4 separate regions of the Homo sapiens genome follow, and all the other regions are linked to region 1. The links come from fine-mapping of genetic effects on gene expression. A gene starts in region 1. Each other region holds a variant in brackets. All regions are shown on one strand. Distances are between the middles of the regions.

Region 1 (8,281 bases):
TGGAGAAAACCTTCCCCAGCACATTGGCTCTCTGAGACATGCTGCCACCACCTGGGCAATAGGCAATTTTGAAGTTTGGGGGGATTTTAGTTATTATCTGTTAACAATTATAGAATCAAAAAACATACTTTCATATTATAAAATCAGCATTTTTTGTCAAGAAAAATGAAAGACAAAAAACGCTGATTTCATAGAATGAAAGCATGTTTTTTGATTCTACAATGGTTTTGTTTTTCGATTAAAAAAGAGCAGAGATTTTGGCCAGATATACTTAAAATTCCTGCTTTATTTTTAAAGTCTCTGGTTCCCTATCTGTAAAATTAGTATAAAAATACAATCCTGTGGTGTTGTTTAGTTTCAGGATTAGTGATAATAAGTGTGAAGCACCTAGCCCAGCACCTGGTACATACTAAGTACTCAATAAGTAACTTTTTTTTTTTTTTTGAGATGGAGTTTTGCTCTTGTTGCCCAGGCTGCCAGGCTGGAGTGCGGTGGCGCGATCTCGGCTCACGGCAACCTCTGCCTCCTGGGTTCAAGCAATTCTCCTGCCTCAGCCTCCCGGGCAGCTGAGATTACAGGCATGCGCCACCATGCCTGGCTAATTTTGTATTTTCAGTAGAGACGGGGTTTCTCCATGTTGGTCAGGCTGATCTCGAACTCCTGACCTCAGGTGATCCACCAGCCTCGGCCTCCCAAAGAGCTGGAATAAGTAGCTTTTTTTTTTTTTTGAGATGGAGTTTCGCTCTTGTTGCCTAGGCAGGAGTGCAATGGCATGATCTCTGTTTGCTGCAACCTCCACCTCCTGGGTTCAAACAATTCTCCTGCCTCAGCCTGCCAAGTAGCTGGGATTACAGGCATGTGCCACCACGCCCAGCTAATTTTTTAATTTTAGTGGAGACGGGTTTCACCAAGTTCATCAGGCTGGTCTCGAACTCCTGACCTCAGGTGATCCACCTGCTTCTGCTTCACAAAGGGCTGGGATTACAGGCATGAGCCAATGTGCCTGGCCACAATAAGTAGCTTTAAAAAAAATTATTCTTCTGTATAAACTTTCAAATATCACTAAAATCTGATTATGCTAAAAAAAAAAAAATCACTGCCTGGGCACAGTGGCTCAGGCCTGTAATCCCAGCACTTTGGGAGGCTGAGGCGGGCAAATCACCCGACATCAGGAGTTTGAGACCAGCCTGTCCAATATGGTAAAAACCCATCCCTACAAAAAATACAAAAATTAGCTGGGCATGATGGTGCACGCCTGTAGTCCCAACTACTCGGGAGGCTGAGGCAGGAGAATCACTTGAACCTGGGAGGTGGAGGCTGCAGTGAGCTGAGATCGCACTACTGCACTCTAGCCTGGGCAAGAGAGCGAGACTCTGCCTCAAAATAAATAAATAAATAAAAATAAATAAATATTACATAAATGTGCCTATTAAGAAATGTTTTGCATTATGTTTCAATGGAAGTAAAAAACCTCACAAAATAAAATTTAGGGAAGAAACCAATTCCATCAAAGTAAGATGCAGGTAAGAGAACTCTCAAAGTCTTTTAGACACACTCAATTGTTATTATTAAACTATATTATTATCTTAATATTATCTGAATCTTATTCTGGTTTCACTACTTACAACTTTGACATGGGTTAGAATGAGATATAATTTTGCACCAATCAAGGGAAAAATACTTTTTAAGAAAAAAAATGGCATGGGACTGCCACAGGACTTCCATTCTCAATAGACAAAAGAATTTTATAAGGCTCTACTTATAAAATATAATTGCAATAGAGTACACTAGTGCTGAAGAGGCTGGTGGTGTGATATACTACACAGGAATTATCTTATGCAAAGGCAGGCCCTATTTCATTAACAGCATCAGGTTTAGTTAGTTTGGCTAAACTTACATGAATAATATTTTATTTCTTAAAAGTAAATAAAGCAGACCTTATTTCCTTGTTATTCTAAATTCGTATTCTGACAGACATTTGAGAGAATAAAAACCTGATTAAGGATCTTTTCAAACAAAGAAATAAGATCTTGTCCTGGAACAGTGGCTCACACCTGTAGTGCCAGCACTTTGAAAGACAAAGGCAGGAGGATCACTTCAGGCAAGGAGTTTGGGACCAGCCTGGGCAACAGAGTGAAACCCTGCCTCTAGAAAAAAATTTTTAAAAATTAGTTGGGCATAGTGGCATGCATCTGTAGTCCCAGCTACTCTAGAGGCTGAGGTGGGAGGATCGCTTGAGCCCAGGCAGTCAAGGCTGCAGTGAGCAGTGATGGACCCACTGCACCCCAGCGTGGGTGACTTAGTGAGACCCTGTCTCAAAAAAAAAAAAAAAAAAAATCACTGAAACTCATTCTCTCTAGTTGGGCTTGACTTAGAACTGAATACATTAAGCAGAAAATTAACACTGGTCATAGGTTTAAAAAATAATGAGTATGCTAAGCTGGGCATGGTGGCTTGTGGCTGTAGTCCCAGCTATTCAGAAGGTGAGGAGTGAGGATCCCTTGAGCCCAGGAGTTCGAAGAGGCAGTGGGCTATGATCGCACCACTGCATTCCAGCTGGGCCAGAGCAAGACCGTGTTTAAAAAAAAAAAAAAAAAAAAAGGCCAGGCGCGGTGGTGGCTCACGCCTGTAATCCCAGCACTTTGGGAGGCCGAGGCGGGTGGATCACGAGGTCAAGAAATCGAGACCATCCTGGCCAAATGGTGAAACCCCATCTATACTAAAAATACAAAAATTAGCTGGGCGTGGTGATGCCCGCCTGTAGTCCCAAGTACTCAGAAGGCTGAGGCAGGAGAATCGCTTGAACCTGGGAGGTGGAGGGTGCAGTGAGCCAAGATCGCAGCACTGCACTCCAGCCCTGGTGACAGAGACTCCGTCTCAAAATTAAAAAAAAAAAAAAAAAAAAAGACCTTAAGAAAACTTGCAATAATGTTTCTATCAAATACCTTACTATGCTATTTATTTAAGAAAAATGACCAAATCCAGTCCAATTTACAGATTTTAAAGCTGAAAGGGCATTGGAGATTGCCTAGTATGCTTTCCACATATCTAAGTGGAAACACACTCAGAGTGATTTATCAGAGTATACATAACATTACTGTACCACAACTGTGAATCTCAGTTCACGAGCTCAGACTTCTCTTTATGGAAAGTAGTTCACAGTATTTGAATCAATCCTGACACCACCTTTAGTTAAGGCAATGCAGACTGCAGTAAGGAGCTCCACTGTGGCAACCCCTATGCTGTTCCTGGTCTTGCAGACTGTCCTGTAACTTGAAGCTAGATGAGCAAACTTAGATTGTAAAGGCATGGTCTAGATCAGCAGTCTCCAACCTTAATGGCATCCAGGACTGGTTTCGTGGAAAACAATTTTTCCATGGACGGGGATGGGGGATGCTTTCAGGATGAAGCTGTTCCACCTCAGATCATCAGGCATTAGATTATCATAAGGAGCGCACAACCTAGATCCCTCGCACATGCAGTTCACATTACGGTTCGCACCATGAGAATCTAATGATGCTGCTGATCTGACAGGAGGCGGAACTTAGACGGAAATGCTCACTCACCCATCGCTCACCTCCTGCTGTGCGGCCCCGTTCCTAACAGGCTGCAAACCAGGTACCAGTCCGTCGTTGGGGACCCCTGGTCTAGATTACAGCTAAAGAACTACAAAGGCTTTCTCTTTATATGCCCTTCCTTCCTGCCCAAGACTTCTGGGCTTTTAACTAGGGATGCAGCACTGCAAGTATCCGGAGGCAGTAACTGGGAAAACCACCTATCATGATTAAAATAAAACACGCATTGGCCTCTGGAACGAAGGATGTTAAAATAATACATTCTGCCCACATCTTGGATTCAAGACTTGGGGAAGTTTTAGAAAAATCAGTTATCTCAAGTAAGTATTCAGTGCACACAATCCAGTGACTGAGTCTACTTTTTCTGGCTACTAAGGTACAGGCTAGGCCTAAGCAGCATAGGCTTTGAAACTATCATCCAGGTTTTCAAATAAAAAGGAGTAAGAAAACAACTGCTGGTAATACAACATTACAAACATTAACATATGCCCAACGAACAGTATCGTAGATCGTTAGATTATCTGCCAAAAGCCTGTTCCCTGGTAAATAACAGTTATTGTTGTTTTACCTAAACTAGTTAAACATGTCGCAGCTTGCTCCTGAAAGAGAACATTCTATAGTCTTTGGAGAATCAGTGAAGAGGTCTTGCAACATTTGTCAGAGGTAGTCAAACAGTGCAAGCAATCACAAAATTTGGTCACCAACCAAACCAGATTAGCTAATCTTTCAGTTCCTGTAGATTAGAAGACAATATTAACTCACCCTTTCTGCATGTTGACTTTTGCATCCCTTTATTTGTGTATTGAAAGAACAAGCACCTCTATGGGAACTCTATGCCCTGACAGTTTAATTACTTATCAAGTTTACTCTGGGCCGGTATTGATCATTCTTTCGTGAAACGAATTAGATACTTAAATTAAAAACAAACAACAAAACCCCCCTTTTCACATAGCATGGCGGCATGTCCCTTGGTAACAAGGTTGAGTGGATCCACCAAGGCCCAGTAGCTTGCCTCCTTTTCGTAAGGATGTAACTATTGTCCAACCAGAAGAGAGAGGCATGGAGTGGGATGTGCACCAGGATGAACTCGCCGGAATCGTCAAGAGTCGTTGTGTGACCCTCACCTTGACTTCGGGCGTTTTGTGGGGACCCAACTGCTTTCTTGCCGCTGCTCTTTGGTCTGAGTTTCCCTCAGCCAAACACTTCACCCACCCATGACCCTCCAACTGTCCCGCTACAGCAGGGGATGGGGGTTGTCTTCCGATCGACCTCGGGGGGCAAAGGCAAAAGTCCCTAGCTGCTTCGGAACCGCTCCTCGAGTCCTGAAGCCGCTCCACGCCTCCTCGCCCACCACTTGGTCCCCGCAGGACGTGGCAGTCTCGGGCTCCAGCCTGGAAAGGAGCCCGCCCGGGTGCCGTCACCCGCCCCGCGCGGCCTCACCTGCCGCTCCCCGGAAATCTCAGCGCTGCCCTGCCCCCGCCCCCACCCTCCCGCGTCCTCCAACTCGAGGTCCCAAGACCCACACAGCAATGGCGCAGCCGGAAACTGGGCCCTAGACTTACTCACGCCCGGCTGGCGGCTCGGGTCGCCTGTGGGCGGGACGCAAAGGCCGCGACTTCCGCCTTCCTGCTTCCGGTCTGGCGGTGAGTGGGGAGTGGGATCCGATCCCGTGGGGCTATGTAGGGGAAGTTGGTGGCTGCAGCTGCCGTGGTTTTCTCCTGGTGTCCAGCAGAAACGGCGGCGGCGCAAGGTGTGGCTGGGCCAACCCAGGATCTCCCAGGACCCTCCGCTCTGCGCGACAAGGGGCCCGCGCTTGCCAAGGCCGACGGGCAGGAGTGAACGTGGCCTCCGTGGGTCTGCAGCCCCGATAGGGTAAGGAGGGAAGAGTGAGCAAGGGAGAAACGTAAGGAATAAGGGAAAGACAAAGGAGGAAGTGCGGACGGCCGTCAAGTGCTACCCGTTGCAGCCGCAGGGGCCACGCGGGTCTGGTTGGGAGATCGAGCCTGGTCGATCCGTTTTGGGCGGAAGAGTAGGATTTATTCCTGAAAGTGTGGAGGCGCGAGCGTTTGGGTCCGAAGTTGAGTTGCAGGGAGATGTGTGGCCTGTGGACCATGGCTCTTTTACTGCAAAGTTCTTTTGCTTATTTCTGAAACTTACATTGTTTATTCGCTACTGGGCTGGAGAAGGTGAAGGCAGATCGATCTCAGTAGTACCTAATTCTAACTGTATGGGTGAGGTCGTATGAAGTCCAGGAGCTAAGATATTTAACGTATTAGGCACTTTCATGTGTGTTCAGTTGAAAATCGTGGGGAAGATATAATTAAAACTAGTCACAGTTTTCTTGGGGTAATGGGACTGTGGGTGAATTACTATAATTTGTTTGGTTATGTCTTCTAATTTTTTAAGTAAAGGACACAAATTGTATGATGGACCCAAAAAAACCTTTATAAAGAGTAAGATGAGCTGTTTGATTTTGTAGTGGTGTACCTAATCCAGTAAATAAATGAGTGGCAACATTTTTAGTATAAAAATTGAAAATCTAGGAACGGATACGCTGTGTAAGTCAGTCAGTGAGCCAACTTGTCTCCCGTATGTCAATGAACTAAAAAAATTTTATTATTGAAATAAGTAACTTAGTAAAATACTTGATTTCCAGTAATTAGGATTTTCTTACAGGGCATTTGCAATTGTAAATTCAAATGAGGAAGAAACGTATTAAGTTACTATACCGGATAGGCAATTTTAGATGTCATATAGGTTGCATATATACAATATAGAAATTTTCCATTTAAAATTTTATTACAATTATCCTGAAATTGTGACTTAAATTTTGTTTTATTTTTTGTATTCTTTCCAACTAGCCAATTGTACAGAATTTAAACCGTCTCTCAGATGTGTACAGTAGAACTCAAGAAGACAGACTACCAAGGGTCATCTGAAGTCGTGATTGGGTCACTAATAACACCAGGACAAAGTTAAGGGATCACTACTCAAGCATAAGGTAGATGATTTTTTTAAAAAAATTCCAGTTGAAATTGTAAGTGGATGTATATACACTCATTCCCTACCCAGGTATTCTAATTCTCCACTTTGAATAGCGGTTGACACAAACATGAAAGGGAGAAAAGCCTCTGGGGCAAAATAGAAAACGTCACTCAAGTCACATAATCCTCATTTGCCAGTTGCCTTTTCCTTACACTCAAAAAGGAACAAAACACATGGCATCTGTTAAGGCTACTTTCTCATTTATTAAATTAGGCTTATTCCAACAGAGGTCCTCAAAGCTGAAAGGGCATAAAATAGCACAGTACTTTTTGCTTCTTTGGCATATTAATGCGATGTCATGACTCCCTTACCCTCTCCTTCCCATTCGGGGAAATAGTCATCTCTCCTTCTCTGCGAGCATTTCACATGCTCTGTTGCTTGTCCTTTTCAAACACCAAATTTGCTGATTTGTATTTTTGTTAATTAGTAATACTAAGGATATGTCAAAAAATGACAAACTGTATTCAGCTGTTTCCTGGAATGACCACAGAAAACTCAAGATTTTTATAAAAGCCTCCTCCTAAATAAAGTTTGTCTTGAATATAGGAGGCATGTGAGAATGCATAGTCCTTATGACAGAGTCACATGGCTTTTTTAAATCTTCTATAACTTTACCTCTTTGAAGTGTCACTATTCTGGCTGTACTAGATGAATTACTTTTTCCTAACCAGAGATACTAGTCCTTATTACAATAGTACTAAGTTGTACTTTTTAAAAAAGCAAACTGAGTGATAATGGAATCCTGAGTTAACTGGTTGTGTGAGGAAACTTTTTCAAAATTTGATTAACCACATAGTCTTTTCTCCTGTTTTTTTCCTCTGTGTTCTCCACCCGCCTCCCCCAGCCCCAGTTTTCATAAGACTGCTGTGAAGATGTTTGATATAAAGGCTTGGGCTGAGTATGTTGTGGAATGGGCTGCAAAGGACCCCTATGGCTTCCTTACAACCGTTATTTTGGCCCTTACTCCACTGTTCCTAGCAAGTGCTGTACTGTCTTGGAAATTGGCCAAGATGATTGAGGCCAGGGAGAAGGAGCAAAAGAAGAAGCAAAAACGCCAAGAAAACATTGCAAAAGCTAAACGACTAAAAAAGGATTGAAGGACTGAACAGGCTTTGCAACCAGAGGAAAATCATTTGGAAAATTACACAGCTTTGGAAGAATCCACTAAAGTTTCTTCTTTGGATTTCTTGACAGTATGATTTAGTAAATGAAATTTGACCAAATGGAAGAATCATGTTAGTTCTGACCTCAATACTATAGTAACTTTTAGGCGTGGGTGTAGAAGTTTATAGGTTTCTATTGACAGTTATTGTAAATTAGCATTTACTGTGGTACAAATTCTTTATAACTGACTTAGTCATTTGCCGCTTAGCAGTTTATATACTGAAATGAAAACATCTTGTGGGGAAAAGTGACTTTAGATTATGAACTCAATTCAAATGAACTCTATTTAAAATGGGGTCCTATTTTGGACAAAGGAAATTAAGAATGTAAAAGTCAGAACAGTCTTGAGGTAAAAAGTGTGCTTTGGCTTAAAAGGGATACAGTATATTAATTACATCTTTTATTATTATTGTTTATTTCTTAGAATCATTTCTGGCTTTCTCAAAACAAAATAATATTAATGAGTACTTCTATTTGCTGCATTTTTCTTATTACAG
Region 2 (8,281 bases), 22 kb before region 1:
CCAATCCTCTCCCACCAGATCCCTCCCCCAACACTGGGAATTACAATTCAACATGAGATTTGGGTAGGGACACAGAGACAAACTATATCATTCTGCCCTGGCCTCTCCCAAATCTCATGTCCTTCTCACATTTCCAAACACAATCATGGCTACCCAATAGTCCCTCAAAGTTTTAATTCATTCCAGCATTAACTCAAAAGTCCAAGTCCAAAGTTTCATCTGAGAGAAGGAAACTTCCTTCTGCCTATCGGCCTATAAAATCAAAAGCAAGTTAGTTAATTCCTGGGGAGACAAGCATTGGGTAAATGCTCCCATTCCAAAAGGGAGAAATTGGCCAAAACAAAGGGGCTACAGGCCCCATGCAAGTCTGAAATCCAGCAGGGCAGTCACTAAATCTTAAAGCTCCAAAATGATTTCCTTTGACTCCATGTCTCACATCCAGGCTACATTGATGCAAGGGGTGGGCTCCCAAGGCGTTGAGTAGCTCTGCCCCTGTGGATCTGCAGGGTACAGTCCCTGTGGCTGCTTTCACTGACCAGCATTGAATGCCTGTGGCTTTTCCAGGTGCATGGTGCAAGTTGTTGATGGATCTGATTCTGGGGTCTGGAGGATGGTGGCCCCTTCTCACAGCTCCACTAAGCAGTGTCCCAGTGGGGACTCTATGTGAGGGCTCCAATGCCACATTTACCCCTCTGCACTGCCCTAGTAGAGGGTCTCCATGAAGGCTCCACCCCTGCTGCTTGTATTGAGTAATACCAGCAGGCTTGTATTAGTCAATTTTTCACACTGCTATAAAGAAATATCCAAGACTGGGTAATTTATAAGGGAAAGAGGTTGAATTGACTCACAGTTCCATATGGCTGGGAGGGCTCAGGAAACTTACAATCATGATAGAAGGTGGAGAAGCAAGGACCTTCTTCACATGGCAGCAGGAGAGAGAAGTGCCAAGTGAGGACGTGCCACACTTTTTAAACCATCAGATCTCATGAGAATCCCTCACTATCATGAGAATAGCATGAGGGAAACTGCCTCCATAATGCAATCACCTCCCTCCCTCAACACGTGGGGATTACAATTTGAGATGAGATTTGTGGGGACACAGAGCCAAACCATATCAAGACTTCTGCCTGGGCATCCAGGCATTTCCATACATCCCTTGAAATCTAGGCAGAGGCTCCCAAACCTCAACTCTTGTCTTCTGCACACCCACAGGCCCAGGCTCATGAAGTCACCAAGGCTTGGGCTTGCACCCTCTGAAGCAATGGCCCGAGCTGTACCTTGACTTCTTTTAGCCAAAGCTAGAGCTGAAGCATCTGGGATGCAGGGCACCATGTCTTAAGGCTGCACGGGACCTTCAACCTGGCCCATGAAACTATTTTTCCATCCTAAGCCTCCAGGCCTGTGATGGGAAGGGCTGCTGTGAAGGTCTCTGAAATGCCCTGGAAGCATTTTCCCCATTGTCTTGGCTATTAACATTCAGCTCTTCTTTACTTATGCAAATTTCTGCAGCCTTGAATTCCTCCCCAGAAAATGGATTTTTCTTTTCTACCTCATGGTCAGGCTGCAAATTTTCCAAACTTTTATGCTCTGCTTCCCCTTTTAATATAAGTTTGAGTTTCAGGTCATTTGTTTGTTTATGCAAATGAGCACAAGCTTTTAGAAGTAGCCAGGCCACATCTTGAATGCTTTGCTGCTTAGAAATTTCTTCTACCAGATACCCTAAATAATCTTTCCAAGTTCAAAGTTTCACAGATCTCTAGAGCAGGGGCACAATGCCACTAGTCTCTTTGCTAAAGCATAGCATGAGTGACCTTTACTCCAGTTCCCAATAAGTTCCTCATCTCTGTCTGAGAGTACCTCAGCCTGGAATTCACTGTCCATAACACTATCAGCATTTTAGTTACAATCACTCAACAACTCTCCTGGACATTCCAAACTTTCCCTCATCTTCCTGTCTTCTTCTGATCCCTCTAAACTGTTCTATCCTCTGCCCATTCTCCAGTTCCAAAGTTGTTTCCACATATTCAGGTATCTTTATAGCAAGACCCCAATTCCCTGGTAACAATTTTCTGCATTAGCCCATTCTCACACTGCTATAAAGAACTACCTGAGAATAGGTAATTTCTAAAGAAAAGAGGTTTCATTGACTCACAGTTCCACAGTCTGTACAGGAGACATGGCTAGGGAGGCCTCAGGAAGTCCTCCTGCCAATCATGGCAGAAGGATGAAAGGAAAGCAAGCATATCTTCACATGGTGGCAGGAGAGAGATAGAATGAAGGGGGAAGTGCCACATACTTTTAAACCATTAGATCTTGTGAGAACTCACTATCATGAGAACAGAAAGGGGGAAATCTGTCCCCATGATCCAATCCCCTCCAACCAGTTCTCTCCCCCAACATTGGGAATTACAATTCAACATGATATTTTGGTGGGGACACAGAGCCAAGCCATATCACCATGCAATGGGGGCAGTCTGGCATATGGTATCAGCCTGGGTAGTGTAAGGAGGGCATGCATTGAGGGGTAGAAGGGGAAGTAGCACTTGCTGCCCTTGGCAGAGTTTCAGACCCCAAGGGAGGTGAAGAGGGCACTTGTATTGGAGAGGCAGCAGCGGCAAAAGAAGATGGGTTATATATAGAGACATTAACCAAATAAGGAAGTACGTGAAAGATGATGGGAGAGGGGTTTCTCATTGTCAGGGTAGGGAGTTACAGGTATGGAAAGGATGAAAACTAGAATAGACTTTGTGGTGTTGGACTGGAATTGAGGGTATTGGTATGAACTGTGTATCTGTTAAAGAAATGGACATCACAGTTTATAATCTTCCCAAAAAGAAAACTCCAAGCACAGATGGCTTCAGGGTAAATTCTCCCAAACATTTAATGAATAAATAACAATTTTACTCAAACATTTCCAAAAATAGAGCAGAAAATACAAAGATATTACAGCAAAGGAAACTACAAACCAGTATCCCTTATGAACATAGATGTAAAAATTCTAAACAAAATTTTAGAGTATCAAATACAATATATTAAAGGGATAAAAGGATAGTACGTCATAACCAAGTGGGGTTCATCTGAAAAATGTAGGATTGGTTTAACATTAGAAAATCAATCAATGGAATTCATCATGCTAATACACTAAAAGAGAAAAACATGATTATCTCAACAGATGAAGAAAAGGCATTTGACAAAATCCTGCTAAGATTCTGTTCTTAAAGATTCATCAAGCACAACCTGTGTTGAGAAGGATCATTTGAGAGGGAGGAACATTGATAATTGTCTATTCTTCCAAGATATTCAAAGCTGGGACTCCACAGCCATTATGGTTACATGTTGCTCAAGCATATATTCTAACTTTCACTTACCTCTTACCTAAATGCATTAGATTATCATTTACCTTGTTGTTTCCCAAACTCTGTTGCTTGAAACACCAGCATTCCTTGAAATATAAGGCCCTTTTTGGAACCTCAAGACGTACATTAACATATTAAAGTTCTAAGTCCCGGGAAGAAACCATATCCAAGATCTTTTTATTTCATGTGAATTTTGACCATTGCTGTCTTATCAAGGGAACTTGCTGATAGAAGCATTTTATTTTGACCCATCCATCCATTCTTGCTTATATATTATATAATATGTATAGGAGCTTGTAAAATAATAGCATGGCTAGAGCAGGCTGGGAAAACTTGGTGGAAGGGTAAACGTCCTGGACTCTTGCCTGCTGCCAGTTTACAGTAATCTTCCTTAAACACCACTTTTCTTCCAATGCTCCTCTGCCTGTATAACTTCCTACACACACCAACTCTATACCCCACCATGGAAATTAGTAA[C/T]TTTTCTTAGATATTTTTCCAATTCTTTGGTTTTAATATCTTTTAAATTCATAAAAGAATCTAAAATGCTTAATTTAGATTAATAAAAACAATATGTTGTCAAGAAAATATTTTAAAGCCACAGAAGAGATCAATGAAAAAGATAACTTTCAGTTGTCCTGGAGAAGCCCTTTAAGGGGTTTCTCTATATATACCCAGAGAAAGCAACGTGGTGAAAATGAAATTTCTACTGGTGTTTGCTAATACAGTGTTTCTTTCTATAAGCATGGAAAACATATTAAAGAGAACTGTGTCCTGTGAGAGGTGAATTTATTAAGAAGCTGGGCATCAAGTCATAAACCTACCACTGGAAAGTAAAATAAAAAGGGAAACCCAGCAGAGCATTTTCCTTTTGTGTGCTCAAGGCATTAGTGAATTATTCTTTGTGCAAAGCACTGCACATCTGGGAAGTGAATAGTTTAAATAAAGTAGTAATATATTTAAGAGCACCTTTTGAAAGTTACAATCCCCAAGGAAGATAAACCATAAGAATCCTTTCATTGCAAAAAAGAATTCATTTGTTATAACAAAGGAGCAAAATGGAGCGTGGTATGTGTAATATGCTGAATGTACAAAAAACAGCATTCTCGCTCAGTCTGATCCTGCATAAGTAATTTTTCAATTAAAGTGCCTTTTCCTCAACACTTGAAATAGTTCTTGGATGAGTTGTAAAGTACTCATGTTAACTGCATTAGGCCAATGGTCATTTAGTGTAAACAGGAACAAGATTTCAGCTAAGCTAGAACAGTGTGACAAACATTATTTTGATTCTTCCTGTGAAGCTTTAGAACAAAGCTTATAAAAGCAGAAAGATATTGAAATCAATTTACAATGATCTGGCCTTAGCTGGCAAAATCAGGCCAAGCCCTAAAATACATATGCTTTGAAGCACAAGTCCATTAGAAAATATACATTTGCATCTTAATATACTATCTATTTTGTCTTCCAGGTTCAAAAGGCAAACAAAAGGCCCAAATTATAATTATTAATGGCCTCAGAAATACATTAATATTATCTATACTAAGAACATGTATAGAGGAATAATGTTGTAAGAAAAATTGTGAAGAACACAGAATATTACATGGATTCATCAAAACTATTATTTTCTATCTTTCAGGATAGAGGCTTTCAAAACAGAAACAGTTTTAAGTTAAAGGAATCCATCTTTTCCCCCTTTTTAGAATAAAGGAAAAATTAAAGTTCTGGACATCTGAAAAGTTATATGCATTTGTACAAATAATTTTACTCCAAAGTATATTTGTCAAGAGAATGCATATTTGGTTGGGATTCAGCATCTTAATAGCATTGCTATGGTCACTGTGAAGTACATTTAAAAAATGAAAGAATCCTTGCCCTCTAAGGACTTTTTATCCTGTTAATTTTAGAATTCTAGAAATAATACCAGATATGGTTTAAAACTAAAATGTATTTTATTTTCTTGGTGAAACATACTTGTAGACATTCATATTAAGCAAATGAAATGGTCATCTTTATATCCAGACAGCACCTACCATTAGAATAACAAAAAGAACAGCTGTTTTCCTCATTAGATTACTGGCTCACTAAATTTTCATTCAGAAAAAGACAGTTTCATTGACTTCTGTCATATTCCTTTTTACTGACTAGGACTATGTCCAACAGAAATGCAAGCCTATATGCACCAAGGGATAGCATAACTATATTCACAGGAACATTATCTGTAATGCAAACTGTAAGCAACCCAGATGTCCAACATAGTAGAATGGATAAATAAGTTGTCGTTTATTTAATGGAATACTACATAGCAATGAAAATGAACAGACTGCATCTACATTCAACATCATAGATAACAAGTGAAAGAAACAAGACAAAAGAATATATAAAGTATGACCTCATTCTGTAAAGTTTCCAGACACACAACACTAAACTCTATGGTTGTATATGGTACATATGGATGCACATCCAAGTGGTAAACTGTAAAGAAAAGCAATAAATGATTACTTTAAAAGTAAGATTAGGCTGGGCACGGTGGCTGATGCCTGTAATACTAGCACTTTGGGAGGCTGTGGCGGGCGGATCACCTAAGGTCAGGAGTTCAAGACTAGCCTGGCCAACATGGCGAAAACCCATCTCTACTAAAAATACAAAAATTAGCACAGCATGGTGGCACATGCCTGTAATCCCAGCTACTCGGGAGGCTGAGGCAGGAGAATCACTTGAACCCAGGAGGCAGAGATTGCAGTGAACCGAGATTGCACCACTCTAGCTTGGGTGACAGAGTCAGACTCTCTCTCAAAAAAAAAAAAAAAAAGAAAAGTAAGATTAGAACTTACTCAGGGAATAGGAATCGAGCTTGGTGAGAGGGTTGTGACTGGAAAGAGATCCATGAGACTTCTGACATGCTAGTTAAATTCTTCTTTTCTTCTCCTCCTTCTCCACCTACTTATTTTTACCATGGGTGGCACTTACAAAGTGTATTAATTCTTACAACCATTTGTAAGCTGTATATGTCATATGTTATCACTTTCTTGTATGTTACACTTCATAGTAAAACACGTTTTTTTAAAAAAAACCCAAGGATTACTACACTAAATAATACACACACACACACACACACACGCACACACACACACACACACACACACACATACACACATTCTAATTGGCTTCAAAGAGAAAAGAAAAAATCCTGATTTTATATTAGACTTCCCTTGTTCTCCTTCTCTTCTGCTGAGCACATATTAAGTGTTCAAATGTACTTACCAACTAAAGAGATAAGAGTTTCAAAGTGCATCAAAATGTACCATTCAGTGTCATGCGTGTTATTTGAGAGCTTCAAAGACTTATGTGGGTTTTTTAGCTGATGGTGGAATTGCATGTACGTATTCCTATTGTCTCTTGTGTCTATGTTGACAACACTAGCTGATATATGACTATGCAGAAATAGTGCTTGAAAAAAATGGGCAACTTCCTGTGCTTACAGCTGTAACACAGAAGCAGCTCAACTTTGATTTTACACCTATGGCCTGCCCCTAAGTTTCCTGCTTCCATCATTACTGTGGATTCTAATCTTAGGAAAAGTCTGCCTCTTTGAAAAAACAAATATACAAACCTGAGCTAACCCAGCCATGTCAACCTATAGTATTATTTATCTGACTTAAGCCTTAATCAACCAATTTTTCTTCATGCTCCTGAATTAGTTGGGTACTAGGTTATTGTGTTACCAAATTAGCTCCCTTTCAACTACCCTGACTGAAACCTGTAACAAATTCTAATTACTGGTGATGGGATATTCTTAGAGCCTCTTTCAGCAAATATCCCAATAAAAATCTTGGTTAACAGACTGACAATATCAAACTCTGACATATTATACAAGAAAGAAACTCAGTTGACCAATTGCCCATCTCTTTACTCCAGAATGGATTTTCTAAAGGAGCACAGAAAATCTATACGGCAATTTTATTCTCCCCTCTGTAATCATTGGTATTCTCTAGCTCCTGGGTAGGTCAAAATCAATTTAACATTTAAAAGTCCCTAAGGCCATGAACAGTGGCTCACGCTTGTAATCCCAGCACTTAGGGAGGCAGAGGTGGGAGAATAGCTCAAGTACAGGAGTTCGAGACCTGCTTGGGCAACGTGGAGAGATTCCATTCTCTGAAAAAAGGGGGGAAAAAAAGATAAAAATACTTGAATCTGGTCTATGTTCTCAGAAAGTTGAATTTTATTTTTCAAAATCGATACCACTTAGTAATGTTCTGATGCAAACAATATTGAAGGCAATACAGCTCACTCTTTATCATCCAAAGGTTTATCCACAGCACAGCTTACTTACTTCAAGCAAACCTTGATCCAAAGATTGGTAAAATAATTAACAATATTCCTTAAGTCACATGTGGTCAACAGTCTGTCTACTTAATCTATCATCCAGAATCAAGGCCTTAAAGGCAAAATAATTATTTGTCTCCCTTTATTCTGGCAAATATAAATATTGAATGAAAATGGGCATCTCTTTTTAGTCTGGTGCTTTATTTCAGCCTGAGTTATACTTTCTCTCGTTTTTTAAATAAGGTAAATAGGAATGACTTCTGCAAGGGGGAAGGATAAAAGACAGAGATATAGAACAAAGATCTGGAACAATCTTATAAAGTTACTTTATTCTACTAAAACAATGTCTAAATTATAGCCTAATACTTGACTCCAAAATACTATGGCTCAAAGGATATTTCTCCAAATATAATTACATACTGTAAGAACGTGATATGACAGAGCAAATATAGGCCATAACTGGTAACCCTATTCTCCAACATCACTGTTATAAGTGGGACATCTCTGAATTAGAGTTTCCCAAACTATCATGCCCATTCAAATACATATTCCAAGCCTCATTTAATACTGAAATTATGTCGGGATTAGTTACTGTTTGGCTGATG
Region 3 (6,640 bases), 340 kb after region 1:
TACTTGGCTGAAAGATTATCAGGAATCAGAGTGCGAGGTGAGGGTGAGGGGTCAAAGGGGTCCTGTTAATGAAGCCCACAAGCAGGAATTCCAGCTTGGTTCCAGACTCCACTAACAAATTGCTAGAGGGTTCTGAAAAGACAAAGGTCCTGGTGAGAGGTGCTTTGAGCTGGGGATTCACATTGCTGCCTCGACACACTGTTAGGGGAGAGGGAACTAGGGGTGTAAAATGTGGGAAATTGAGGACTTGGTCCAGCACAGAGCCTAGATGGGGGTGTGCCTCTGTGGATGGAAAGGAGTGAGAAGGGCAGAAAGAGTGAAAGAAAGATGAAGAAGGAGAGATTCTGGGTGTGCAGGAAGGATGGGAGGCCAAGGTTGGGGCCTGTACCACAGGTGGGTTGTGGTACCAAAACTGGTCACCTGGGGAAACTAGGGCAAGGGCATGTGTTGGTTGTGATCATGGAAATTCCTTTATTTCTATTCCCTATTAATCATTGCAGGTTAAGTTAATAAATTACATGCTCATTTGTAGAATTTGAGACTTTTCACTCTTCTGGGCAATTCTTTCATGATGGGGCATTTAAAGGTCTAGAAATTATTAGGCTTTTTCAAACATCAAATGTATGAAATCTCATTATAGTAGCTAAAGCCAGCCAGAATAACCAGGATTTCTTTCCTACTCCCAACTAACTAGGAAGAAAATCCATGGTATTTGAGTATCTTGTATAAAATTGTCTAGAAGAAAATGTTTTTCTATGTTTACCTAGAAAGATATTTGTAAATATTTGACATGACAGCTTTTATAGGGTAGTCATTGTTTTAGTTTCACATTGTCTACAATTTTTGTTTGTTGATGTTCAGCTGTTGTTTGAAAGGGCCATAGTTGGAGGAACCTACATTGAGGAAATATTGAATTAAACTATATATTATCCAGATAAATAGTGGAAGGAAATATTAGTCTAAGTTTTTTCTGGCATCTTTTCCTTCATATCAAAATTACGTAACCTAAAAATTAAGTAATGATATTTTTAGCAATATTGTATTGCAAATGTATACACAGATTATGCATTAAATCAATTTGTCTACTAGCTTAGGTGTGTAACTACACTTTCCCTGGGAAAATGTTTTCTTCAGTTAAAATAACTAAATTATACATTTCGTTCTCAATTAGAGATGTTTTTTGCAGACATGGAATAAATGAAGATCCTCTGTTGTTCTGAATCTGTGTTCATGTTTAATTTGTTAAAGAGAATTGAGACACCTTAATAACAATCATTTTAGTCTAACTGTACTGAAGAAAGTAGTATGGATACAAATACAGTCTGCTAACCCAGAGGCCATTTATCATGAAGTTTCAGTACCTAAAATGTTTCTGGAAATGAGTAAGCAGAGAAATTATCCCCAAGCAGAGAAAACAATGTCCCAAAGTCTTTTGAGTACATCTGTGCTCCACCCAGAAGGAAACCCCCTGGTTTTTAATCTCCACCCACTTAGCACTATTTTAAACATTCCAATGTTGTTGTTTTTCTCATTTCCCATCCCATAGCATATTAGGGAAAACAAATTAGAATGAGTGAGATTTTGTAGAAACAGGAATGCTAGTAACAAACAGTAAGAAGAGCAGTAGCTAACAAACTGATAGGGAGGAGACAGGAAATTTGTTAAAAAACAGGCACTGGCATTAGAAATGCCTTGCAATTTGGAACTTTTAGTGCAGGGCAAAGATCCATAGCCATAAATAGGGGTAGTCCCAGAGGACACTGCTATGATACTGTTATCTTAATAGTATCCCTGAATCATCCAGAAAAGTTCAGTTATAAGATGATTGAAATCTTTAAAAAAATGTTTTACAGTAAAAAAAAAATCAGAATCACAGATACAGGTGTATCTGGGCAGGTGTATCTTTGATTACACCTAGAGATAAGCATTTCAGTTATCTAAAATACTTTTATGAAACACTGCATTAGAAGATGAGGCTGGATAAATGAACTGTACTCATAAATACAAAACAGGATGAATTAATTTGATCTTACTGTTGGTTACTTTTCTTAACCACCCCTCTCCTTGAGTACCATTTATTTTTCCTCCCTTTCTGGCTTACCTGTACATTTTATAGATACGTACTATTTGGTGTATATGTACCGTAATACCTCCCCTGTATTCAGATTTGTAATAGGAAAGACCATTATGCTTTTTGCTCTCTATAGGATTCATCAGTCCATGTGCCCTGCCTGTCCACCGCTGGGCATTCCTTCCCCAGATGGGGCTCCATGCCCTATTCCTGTCCCTACTTGGACTGAACCTATGACTGCCAATTCTTGCTTGTCTCAAGGCAGGGTATTTAAGGCTATGGATTCCCACCCTTCCTCTCATTCTTGTAATTTTTGGTTACTGACCAAAAGAGAAACCCTTTACTGGGTATTATAGCCTTTCTATTGGCTCCTGTTACTATTAACCATACTTTCAGCTCTGTCCTTTATTCTTTGAGACTGGTGTTCCATTGTGTTCCAGTTCTCTTGTATCCCCAGTCTCATCATTTTCCAAATATAACTGAATCACAGCTCTTTCCCTCAACCTCAGGCCCATACACTGCTTATGAGAAGGTTCATCCATCCATTCATTCAACAAATATTTCAGTGTCTGTTACACGTCAAGCACTGTTTCAGGTGCCAGAGAGGTAAGAGTGCACAAAACAGAAGAACATCCCTGCCCCTAAGCAGCTTATAATATAGCGCATTCTTGGGGGCAGAGAGGGCCAGACGGTAAACAAGTAAATTTAGAATATTGGTGAA[A/G]TACATATAAATATATATAACACTGAAAAGTACGATGCAGAAAAATAAAGCAAGGTAAGGGAAGTGCGTGTTGTTGGAGTGGTGACATTTTAGCAGGGATCTGAGGAAAGTGAAGGAGTAAGCTGTGGCAGATATCTGGAGGAAAAGAACTATAGGTTGTGGGGACAGTGATTTTCAATGCCTTGAGGCAGGGCATTCTTGGTGTGTTCAGGGAAGGACAAGGGGATCAATGCAGTTGAAGCTAAGTATGAGAAGTGAGGCTGGGCATGGTGGCGCACACCTGTAATCCCAGCACTTTGGGTGGATCACTTGAGGTCAGGAGTTTGAGACCAGCCTGGGTGTGTGCCTTTAGTCCCAGGTACTTGGGAAGCTGAGGCAGGAGAATCACTTGAACCCAGGATGTGGAGGTTGCAATGAGCCGAGATCGCACCACTGCACTCCAGCCTGGGTGACAGAGTGAGACTCTGTCTCAAAAAAAAAAAAAGAAGTGAGAAGAAGGAAAGGTCAGAGGTCAGAGAGGTAGTCAGGGCCCAGATCATGTAAGGCCGTGGAGCCCATTATAAGAACTTTGACTTTTATTGTGAGTGAGGTGGGAAAATATTGGTGCATTTTAAACAGAGAAGGGACATGACTTGAGTTTTTGTTTTGTTGTTTTTAACTTGAGGAAGACATTAAAGAGGGACAAAGATGAAGTCAGGGAGACCAGCTTAGAGGCTACTGCAGCAATCCGGATAAGACAGGACAGTGGCTTGGGCCACCGTTAAAGTAAAGTAGTTGGATTCTAGAATATATTTAGAAGATAGGATTTGTTCATGAATTTTATGTAGAAAGAAATGGAGGCTTTCTTCCATATTTAAAGATCTGGGTGGACTGGCCAGGATTCCCCTATCTATCCATTGCCACATTTGAATCTAACTGTTACTTTTTCACTTCCATAGGAAAATGAAACAAAACTCTCCTTTTTTGAACATCTCACTGTTGGGCTTTGTTGCCTCTGCCTTTCTTAGTCTTCTTTGTCTCTTGTTCTTCGCTTCAATCCCACATGCCTTAGAGACTTTGACGTTTCTCCATCGTTACTCCTGCTGTTGCTCTGGGAGACTTCCACGTCCCTTCAAATGCCGACTTGTGAGCGGCCTTAAAGTTCCTTGTGTGACTCAACTGTGATAACCTTTACAGCACTGTAAAGGTCTCTGGCTGTTCAGCTCTCTTATACCTCCTTCTCTTCACTCTCTCAGAGACTATAATTTTGCCTTGGTGTCTGAATTTTTTATTTATCCTACTTCCATATTTACCTGGCAAAGCCCTAATTCCAAATTAATCCTACAGTAATCCTCTGCACGGATACCCAGGTAGTGTCTGAATTTTTTATTTATCCTACTTCCATATTTACCTGGTAAAGCCCTAATTCCAAATTAATCCTACAGTAATCCTCTGCAGGGATACCCAGGTAGCTGAACAGTGTGGTGGAAAACTGGGTAAAATGGTAAATGGATCAGTTCATGGTTTCCAGTCTTGTCTCAATCCTGACCAGCATTACTTAAGTCTTTCACTCAGTGACTCTCAATCTTGGCTGCATATTAGAATCATCTGGGAACTTAAAAAAATCCTGGAGCCCAGGCTACAGAGACCAGTTAAATCTGAAATTTGGAGGCAGGACCCAAGCATCAGTAGTTACTCATGTTCTTTAGGTGATTCTAATGTGCAACTAAGATTGAGAACCACTACTTTAAACTTGTTCTTGAAGGATTTTCAGTTTCCATTTCCCTGAAAAGCTATTCTATTCTTTCACTAATCTCTAAAAAACCCTCTACCTAACTCCGTTTTATAAACCCTTGGCAATTGATCCCACTTCCTACTTGCTAGAAAAATTGAAGCATCTATTGGTGAATCCTCTTTAATTTTTAGTCCCCATTTAGTCAACTATACATTTAATTAGGGCTTAGATAAGCCAGGCACTGTGGTAGGCATGGGACATAGAGTGGTAAATGGGACAGTTATAGTCCGTGCCTTCCTGGTGCTTATGGTCTATCCCTGCATCCAGGCAGGTCAATTAGGCAATTACTGGACATGGTACATGCTATGGGCGCATGTAGGAAGGGCCCTAATCCAGACTTAGGCTCTGGAGAAGGCTTCCTCCCCTTTACTAACTCATCTATTTCACGCCCTTCTTTCCCGTTTTCCTTCTCGGAGGAGGTATCACCCTTGCTCCAGTGGAGGGAGAATGCTGCCTTGCAGGGCTTCTGACCATCCCCCTCATTTTCTCCTCTAGACCTTCATGGGTTGTTCCTTCTTGTTTCTCTCTATTACTTCATCCCCTCACTGTAAAAATACTCCAACAGTTATCACCTTAAGACTAATAAAGCTTGATTTTGCCTCTCCTTCTTCTCTTCTAGACTTCACCACCAGGCTTCGTGAACAAGACCTGTTCAATGCCTGCTATTAATCACCTGCCTTTGCATTTTGGCTTCAGCCTTATCATTGCTTAATTTCTTCTTCCTTCCAGTCACAGAGGCTTCCAGGTTGGCTGAATTTGCTGAAGACCATTCCACTCTATGCACTGAACCTCTCTGATGCATTTGACCCTATTCATCCCTGCCTCCCTCTTCAGAATTTTTCCCACTTTTGTTTTCATGATCCTGCACGTACTGAGTTCTCCTCATGTCTTTTTGACTCTTTCTTTTTTTGTCTCCTTTGTGAGATTCCATCTTTTGGCCTTCCCCTTAAGTGATGGTATTCTCCAGGCGTTTGTCTTTAGACCACTATTGTTCTCATGCATCTATTACTGTGGTTTTCATCACCAACTAGATGTGAAGTTCCAAAAGCTGTATCCTTAGCCTTGACCTTCCTCCCAAGTGCCTGCTAAACATCTCCACCTGAATGTCCCCTGGGCTTGTCACATTGGGATTTACTTTACCAAACTATCTCTGCCCTTGTTCAGGCCTATAATGATTTCTCATTGGGATGATGGAATTAAACCCCACTCGGTCTTCTTGCTCTTAGGCTCACCCATCACATTCATCCTTTGCATAGCTGATTTGCCTATAGCTAAAGCTTGCACTAAGGGGATTCTTCTGGTACAGGCTTGGGGTTTTCAGTGGGTAGCACTCTGGTGACCTGTGTGGTTGAGCTCTTTTACATATCGAGCTTATGAATAATATTTCACCTTTTCAGCGCTTCCTATTGCCTATGCAGTGTCTTTCACACTCTTCCTCATTTGCACTCCTTTCTCAGTGCATTTGACTATCCTACAACCCCAAAGTACCCAATTCCTACTGTTCACCAAGAAATAGCTCAGTCTCACATCTTTCACAAAGCCTTCTTATCATTCACACCTTCATTTATTTATTCACTGATATTTATTAGACATTTGCATTGTTGCATTGTCCCAGGCAGCAAACAACATTCCCAAAAGGAGGAAGGTAAGAACACACCTGAAGGCATTAGAGAAGTGCTTCTCAAACTATCTGTGGTAATAGACCAACTGGGTTTTTAATTTGTTTTTTTCTTTTTTTCCCTATCGTGGATCAGTAAATGGTCCTATTGCACATAGTGAATATGCAGGTTGCACCACATGTGACTCACCTCACAAATTCAGCAACACTTGAACTGGTCTATGCCTTGTTCAACAAGCATCACATACTTGGATGTCACAGCAATGTCAAATTGCTATAAACATTTCTAAATGCTTACACTTGATTTCTGGAGTTAGCTGGTACCAATCTAGTAAGAAACCATTTGTGCGTCAGCACCAGTCACAGGCCACTGTCCTAGAGTGTTTGCTATAGATGCCATGGTAGAAGAGGGGACAGCTTATGTCAGGGGCTCAGAAGAGACTGGACAGTTTGCCT
Region 4 (8,281 bases), 34 kb before region 1:
ACAACATCGTACCTGTCTTTTCAGTGTATTATTCCCAAATAAAAGTTTAACCTCTTTTCGGAATCTTAGGACTGTGCACTATAGCCATTAGTTTTATAAAAATCTGTGCTGGGGGAGGGGCCAAGATAGCCAAACAGAAACAGCTGCTGTCAGAGGCTCCCACTGAGAACGAAAATGGCAAGTGAATCCTGTACCAGCAACTGAGGTATCCAGGTTCTTTCACTGGGACTAACTAGGCAGTTGGCGTGACCCACGGAGAGCAAGGAAAAGCAGGGTGGAGTGATGGCCCACTCAGGAGCTGCACAGGGGAAGGGGAGCTCCCAACCCCAGCCAAGAGATGCGGTGAGTGATTGTGCTACACGGCCTGGGAAAACCACACATTTTCCACAGATCTCTGCAACCCACAGATCACGATACCCCCTCTCATGAGCCCACACCACCAGGGCTTTGGTTCCCAGCACAGAGCTGTGCAGGTTCTCAGCGGACATTTCGGCTGGAGGCTGACTAAGACTACCAAGTTCCCAGGGGCTTGGGCGGCTGTCATCACTGCAGCTGCTTGCTGCCTAAGACCAACTGAGCTCCCAGGGGGAAGGGTGGCCATTATCACTGTGGCTTCCTGCTGCCTAAGATGACTGAGCTCCCAGTGGGAGGGGCAGCAGCCACCACTGCAGCTCCAGTCTGCTGGTTTTCCCCTGTGGATGCTGGGGAGATTGGGTGGTTTGGACCCAGGAGGAATTCCCCACAGCACAGCACAGTGGCTGTGGCAGATCATGGCCAGACTGACTCTTTAGGCCAGACCCTTACCCGTCCCTCCTCAACCAGTGGGGCCTCCTTGTGGGAATTTTAGCTACTCAGGCCAGGGGTTTATAGTCAGAACTCACATCTCCCTGGGACAGAGCCTCGTAGGGGAAGGGCAGCCATGGTCTCTGCGGATCAGCAGACTTAGTCTTTCCGCCTGGTGTCTCTGAGGAGTCAGGGCAGTCTGGATGAGTGGGATTTCCCCAGCACAGCACACCCTCTCCACTGAGGAGCAGCTAGAGTGCTTTGTTAAGCGGGTCTCTGATCCCATGTCTCCTGACTGGGTGAGACCCCCACAACAGGATATGCCAGACGCCCTATACAGGGGCATTCCCACTGGCATCAGGGTGGTGCCCCTCTGGGACAGAGCTCCCAGAGGAAGGAGCAGGCAGTCTTCTTTGCTGTTCTGTAGCCTCCACTGGTGACACCTCCAGGTGTGGGAGGGACCCAGGCAAACAGGGTCTGGAGTAGACTCCCAGCAAACTGAAGCAGCCCTACAGAAGAGCATTCTGACTGTTAAAAGAAAAACAAACAGAAAGCAACAAGAGCATCAACAAAAAAGTCCCCACAAGAACCCCACTCAAAGGTCAGGAGCCTCAAAGATCAAAGCTAGATAAACTCAGAAAGATGAGAAAGAATCAACAACAACAACAAAAAATGCTGAAAACTCAAAAGGCCAGAGTGCTTATTCTTCTCCAAGTGATTGCAATACCTCTCTAGCAAGGGCACAGAACTAGGAGGAGGCTGAAATGGATGAATTGACAGAAGTAGGCTTCAGAAGACGTGTAATAATGAACTTTGTTAAGCTAAAGGGGCATATCCTAACCCAATGCAGAGAAGCTGAGAACCATGATAAAACATTACAGAAGCTGTTAACCAGCATAACCAGTTTAGAGTGGAATATAAATGACCTGATGGAGCTGAAAAACCCGACACAAGAACTTCACAATGCAACTGCAAGTATCAGTAGCCAAATAGAACAGGCAGAGGAAAGAATTTCAGAGCTTGAAGACTATCTTACTGAAATAAGACAGCAGACAAGAAAACAATGAAAAGGAATGAACAAAACTTCCGAGAACTATGGGATTATGTAAAAAGACTGAAACTACGACTGATTGGGGTACCTGAAAGAGACAGGGAGAACGAAACCAAGTTGGAAAACATACTTCAGGATATCATTCAGGAGAACTTCCCCAACCTAGCAAGACAGGTTAACATTCAAATTTACAAAATCCAGAGAACCCCATTAAGATACTCCATGGGAAGATCAATCCCAAGACACATAATCATCAGATTTTCCAAGGTTAAAATGAAGAAAAAAAAGCTAAGGGCAGCCAGAGAGAAAGACCGGGCAACCTATAAAGGGAAGCCCATCAGACTAACAGTGGACCTCTCAGCAGAAACCCTACAAGCCAGAAGAGATTGGGGGTCAACATTCAACATTCTTAAAGAAAAGAATTTCCAACCCAGAATTTCATATCTGGCCAAACTAAGTTTCATAAGTGAAGGAGAAATAAAATCCTTTTCAGACAGCCAAATGCTGAGGGAATTTATCACCACCAGGCCTGCCCTGCAAGAGCTCCTGAAGGAAGCACTAAATATGGAAAGGAAAAAACATTACCAGCCACCACAAAAATACACTGAAGTGCAAAGACCAATAGCACTATAAAGGAACTACATTAACAAGTCTGCAAAATAACCAGCTAGAATCATGATGACACAATCAAATTCACAGATAACAATATTAACCTTAAATGTAAATGGGTTAAGTGCCCCAATGAGAAGACACAGAACGGCAAGCTGCATAAACAGTCAAGACCCATTAGTGTGCTGTATTCAAGAGACACATGTGCAAAGACACACATAGGCTCAAAATAAAGGGATAGAGGATAATTTACCAACCAAATGGAAAGCAGATAAAAGCAAGGATTGCAATCTTAGTTTCTGACAAAACAGATTTTAAACCGACAAAGATTGAAAAAGACAAAGAAGGGCATTACATAATGGTAAAGGGTTCAATTCAACAGGAAGAGCTATTTTAAATACATATGCACCCAATAAAGGAGACCCTAGATTCATAAAACAAATTATTAGAGACATACAAAGAGACTTACACTCCCACATGATAATAGTGGGAGACTTTAACACCCCATTATCAACATTAGACAAATTATTGAGATAGAAAATTAACAAAGATATTCAGGTCTTAAACTCAGCCCTGGATCAAGTGGACCTGATAGATATGCACAGAACTCTCCACCCCAAAACAAGAGAATATGCATTCCTCTCAGTGCCACATGTCACGTACTCTAAAATCGATCACATAATTGGAAGTAAAACACTCCTCAGCAAAAGCAAAATAATCTTTTTTTTGATGAACTGAAATCACGACAGTCTCTCAGAACACAGCACAATCAAATTAGAACTCAAGATTAAGAAACTCACTCAAAACCACACAATTACATGGAAATTGAACAACTGCTCCTGAATGACTCCTGGGTAAATAATAAAATTAAAGCAGAAATCAAGAAGTTCTTTGAAACCACTGACAACAAAGAGACAATCCACCAGAATCTCTGGGACATGGCTAAAGCAGTGTTAAGAGGAAAGTTTATAGCACTAAATGCCCACATCAAAGACTAGAAAGATCTCAAATTGACACCCTAACATCACAATTAAAAGAACTAGAGAATCAAGAGCAAACATACCCCAAAGCTAGCAGAAGACAAGAAATAACCAAGATCAGAGTGGCACTGAAGGAGAAAGAGACATGAAAAACCCTTTGAAAAATTAACAAATCCAGGAGCTCTTTTTTGAAAAAATTAATAAAATGGATAGACTGCTAGCTAGACTAATAAAGAAGAAAAGAGAAGAATCAAGTAGACACGATAAAAAATTATAAAGGGGATATCACCACTGACCCCACAGAAATACAAACAATCATCAGAGAATGCTATAAACACCTCTATGTAAATAAACTAGAAAATCTAGAAGAAAGGGAGAAATTCCTGGACATATACACCCTCCCAAGACTGAGCCAGGAAGAAGGTGAATTCTTGAATAGCCCAATAATGAGTTCTGAAGTTCAGGCAGTAATAAATAGCCTACCAACCAAAAAAAGTCCAGGACCAGACAGATTTACAGCTGAGTTCTATCAGAGATACAAAAAGAAGCTGGTACCATTTTTTTCTGAAACTATT[C/G]CAAACCACTGAAAACCCATTTTATGAGGCCAGCATGATCCTGATACCAAATCCTGGCAGAGATACAACAAAAAAGAAAACTTCAGGCCAATATCCCTAATGAATATTGATGCAAAAACCCTCAATAAAATACTAGCAAACCAAATCCAGTAGCACATCAAAAAGCTGATCCACCACGATCAAGTCGGCTTCATCCCCAGGATACAAGGCTGGTTCAACATACACAAATCAATAAACATAATTCATCACATAAACAGAACTAAAGACAAAAACCACATGATTATCTCAATAGGCGCAGAAAAGGCCTTTGATAAAATTCAAAATCCCTTCGTGTTAAAAACTCTCAATAAACTAGGTATTGATGGAACATACCTCAAAATAATAAGAGCCATTTATGAGAAACCCACAGCTAATATCATATTGAATGGGCAATAGCTGGAAGCATTCACCTTGAAAACAGCACAAGACAAGGATGGCCTCTCTCACCACTCCTACTCAACATAGTATCGGAAGTTCTAGCCAGGGCAATCAGGCAGGAGAAAGAGATAAAATGTATTCATATAGAAAGAGAGGAAGTCAAACTGTTTGCAGATAACGTGATTCTGTGTCTAGAAAACCCCATCGTCTCAGCCCAAAGATTCTTAAGCTGATAAGCAACTGCAGCGAAGTCTCAGGATACAAAATCAATGTGCAAAAATCACAAGCATTCCTATATGCCAACAACAGACAAGCAGAGAGCCCAAACATGAATGAACTCCCATTCACAATTGCTACAAAGAGAATACAGTTAACAAGGGAAGTGAAGGACCTCTTCAAGGAGAACTACAAACCACTACTCAAGGAAATCAGAGAAGACACAAACAAATCGAAAAACTCATCGATAGGAAAAATCAATATCATGAAAATGGCCTTACTGCCCAAAGTAATTTATAGATTCATTGCTATTCCCATTAAACTACCATTGACATTCTTCACAGAATTAGCAAAAACTACTTTAAAATTCATATGAAACCAAAAAAGAGCCCATATAGCCAAGACACTCCTAAGCAAAAAGAAGAAAGCTGGAAGCATCATGCTACCCAACTTCAAACAAAACAGCACGGTACTGGTACAAAAACAGACACATAGACCAATGGAACAGAATACAGAACTCAGAAATAAGACTGCACATCTACAACCATCTGATCTTTGACAAACCTGACAAAAATGAGCAATAGAGAAAGGATTCCCTATTTAATAAATGGTGCTGGGAGAACTGGCTAGCCACATGCAGAAGCCTGAAACTGAAGCCATTCCTTACACTTTATCCAAACATTAACTCAAAATGAATTAAAGACTTCAATGTAAAACCCTAAATTATAAAAACCCTAGAAGAAAATCTAGGCAATACCACTCAGGAGATAGGCACAGCCAAAGATTTCAGGATGAAAACATCAAAAGCAATTGCAACAAAAGCAAAACTTGACAAATATGATCTAATTAAACTAAAGAGCTTCTGCACAGCAAAAGAAACTATCATCAGACTGAACAGACAACCTGCAGAATGGGAGAAAACTTTTGCAATCTATCCATCTGACAAAGGTCTAATATTCAGAATTTACTTGTAAATTAAACAAATTTATAAGTAAAAAAAACTGCATTAAAAAGTGGGCAAAGGACATGAACAGACATTTCTCAAAGGAAGACATTTATGTATCCCACAAACATGAAAAAAAGCTCAACATCACTGATCATTAGAGAAATGCAAATCAAAACCACAATGAGATACCATCACACACCAGTCAGAATGGCCATTATCAAAAAGTCAAGGAACAACAGATGCTGGTGAGGCTGTGGAGAAACAGGAATGCTTTTACACTGTTGGTGAGAATGTAAATTAGTTCAACCATTGTGGAAGATGGCATGGCAATTCCTCAAAGACCTGGAACCAGAAATACCATTTGACACAGCAATCTCGTCACTGGGTATATACCCAAAGGGATATAAATCATTCTATTGTAAAGATACATGCATGTGTATGTTCACTGCAGCACTAATCACAATAGCAAAGACACGGAATCAATCCAAATGCCTATCAATGATAGACTGGATAAAGAAAATGTGGTACATATACACAATGGAATACTATGCAGCCATAAAACGGAACAAGATCATGTCCTTTGCAGGGACATGGATGGAGTTGGAAGCCATTATGTTCAGCAAACCAACACAGGAACAGAAAACCAAACATCACATGTTCTCACTTATAAGTGGGAGCTGAACAAGGAGAACACATGGACGCAAGGAGGGGAACAACACACACTGGGGCCTGTTGGTGGTGGGGGTGGAGAGCATCAGGATAAATAGTTAATGCATGCAGGGCTTAATACTTAACTAATGGGTTGATAAGTGCAACAAATCACCATGGCACATGTTTATCTATGTAACAAACCTGCATGTCCTGCACATGCATCCTGGAACCTAAAATTAAATTAAATTAAATTCAAATAAAAAAAATTAAAAAATCCATGCAGATGAACCGCACATACTTTCTTCAGCTTTTTTTTTTTAATTGAAAGCAGGCATAGCATACTTTTGCCATGTGAAAAAGAGTAAAGGAATTGGCTGAAAACCAATTGGTTGAAATAATAGATTAATTGATAGGATAAGTTTTAGGCAAAGTATACTCAGATATGAGTTTTCATTATTTTGTACTACATATTTCTTTTATTTTTAGTTAGTTCTGATATTGTTTAAAAATTATTTTTAATTTTTATTTTAACTAAATTTACCGATTTTATAAGCAGTTTAGGGAGTCAAACAACCTTAACAATCTTGTTATAAATAAATATCAACTTATTTTCTCACTCCCAACTCCACCACTGTACCTCCAGGCAACCATTTTGAACCCTGGTAGCAGATTCTCTTTCTTTACGTTTTTACTTCAAATAATGATTATTATATGATTTCTTCACTTTTCCATTTTAGCCATTATCTGCTGATTTCCCAGTATAGAAGATGAAGATTTGCTTATCTTTTGCATCCTGTTCATCCACATAAATACACACTTTTAATTTTAAATTTTGGCTCTATGGACAATTTTAGTTAGATCACCATTCAGTATTCATTCACATTACTTAAATGCTATCCTCACCTGTGCCACATAATATACTATATTTCCTTTCCTGCATAAGTTTTTTCTTTTTATTGAAACTGAGATACACAGATTTGGATTAATTATAATTTATAACATATACTTATCATTGGTTTATGTATGAACTTCTTTTAGTTATAATATTTAACTAAAATATTTAAATAATGTAATTAGCTCCCTTGACCCGACATCTCAGATGAAACCTAGAGACTTGGAAATAACCTTCATCTACCATCTTCTCCTCACACACAGCCTATCTTGTTTTTATCATGTCCTTACTTACCTTTTTTTTTTTTTTTTTTTTAATCACTCTTGCTCAGGCTGGGATTACAGGTGTGAGCCACTGCACCCGGCCCTTACTTTCCTTTTTATATAACTTTATTGCATCTACATATATTCCTACATATAGGGATACACAGAGTTAGTAGATGAAAAGTATGTTTTGGACCTCCCCCAAAAAAGTCATTATATGAAGAAGACATGCACACATATATATAGCAGCACAATTCACCAATTGCAAAAATATGGAGCCAACCTAAATGCCCATCAACCAATGAGTGGTTAAAAAAATGTGGCATATAGGACAGGCACGGTGGCTCATGCCTGTAATCCTAGCACTTTGGGAGGCCAAGGTGGGGGTGTATCACCTGAGGTCAGGAGTTCAAGACCAGACTGGCCAACAAGGTGAAACCTCATCTCACTAAAAATACAAAAATTAGCCAGGCGAGGTAGCACGTGCCTGTAGTACCAGCTACTCGAGAGGCTGAAGCAGGAGAATCGCTTGAACCTGGGAGACAGAGGTTGCAGTGAGTCAAGATTGTGGCACTGCACTCCAGCCTGGGCAACAGAGCAAGACTCCATCAAAAAAAAAGGAAAAAAAAGTGGTATATAGACTACTCATACTCAGTCATAAAATGGAATGAAATAATGGCATTTGCAGTGACTTGGTTGGAGCTAGAGGCCATTATTCTAGGTGAAGTAACTCAGGAATGGAAAACCAAACATCACATGTTCTCACGTATAAGTGGGGGCTAAGCTGTGAGGATGCAAAGGTATAAGGATAATGTAATGGACCTTGGAGACTTGAGGATAAGAGTGAGAGCAGGGTGAGGGATAAAAGACTACACATTTGGTACAGGGTACACTGCTT

Evidence for each region. PIP is the estimated chance that this variant, and not a neighbour inherited with it, causes the effect. A credible set is the group of variants that fine-mapping cannot tell apart.
Region 2: its variant is the best candidate, but not a certain one, in a credible set for the expression of SMIM15 in whole blood (INTERVAL, PIP 0.83).
Region 3: its variant is the best candidate, but not a certain one, in a credible set for the expression of SMIM15 in whole blood (TOPMed, PIP 0.73).
Region 4: its variant is the best candidate, but not a certain one, in a credible set for the expression of SMIM15 in whole blood (INTERVAL, PIP 0.61).

Annotation. Positions count from the first base shown.
Region 1 is chr5:61,159,383-61,167,663 of GRCh38, reverse strand. It overlaps SMIM15 (small integral membrane protein 15), which reads left to right and starts at 5,196. Exons shown (of 3, transcript NM_001048249.4): 1 at 5,196-5,447; 2 at 6,437-6,576; 3 at 7,465-8,281. The coding sequence starts at 7,493. The coding sequence ends at 7,717. It overlaps SMIM15-AS1 (SMIM15 antisense RNA 1), which reads right to left and starts at 5,348. Exons shown (of 4, transcript NR_109908.1): 1 at 5,138-5,348. RefSeq lists enhancers at 4,508-4,567, 4,608-4,707, 5,238-5,497, 5,568-5,647, 5,133-6,029 and a silencer at 4,948-5,057.
Region 2 is chr5:61,181,134-61,189,414 of GRCh38, reverse strand. The region is part of intron 3 of SMIM15-AS1 (SMIM15 antisense RNA 1); the gene reads right to left. Among named protein-coding and RNA genes, the nearest start is that of SMIM15, 23 kb to the right of the region's middle. RefSeq lists an enhancer at 1,200-1,715. The variant C/T (reference allele first, on the strand shown) is at 3,834.
Region 3 is chr5:60,821,597-60,828,236 of GRCh38, reverse strand. The region is part of intron 1 of ELOVL7 (ELOVL fatty acid elongase 7); the gene reads left to right. Among named protein-coding and RNA genes, the nearest start is that of ELOVL7, 19 kb to the left of the region's middle. RefSeq lists a silencer at 5,849-5,908. The variant A/G (reference allele first, on the strand shown) is at 2,793.
Region 4 is chr5:61,193,091-61,201,371 of GRCh38, reverse strand. All of the region lies in intron 3 of SMIM15-AS1 (SMIM15 antisense RNA 1), which reads right to left. Among named protein-coding and RNA genes, the nearest start is that of SMIM15, 35 kb to the right of the region's middle. The variant C/G (reference allele first, on the strand shown) is at 3,999.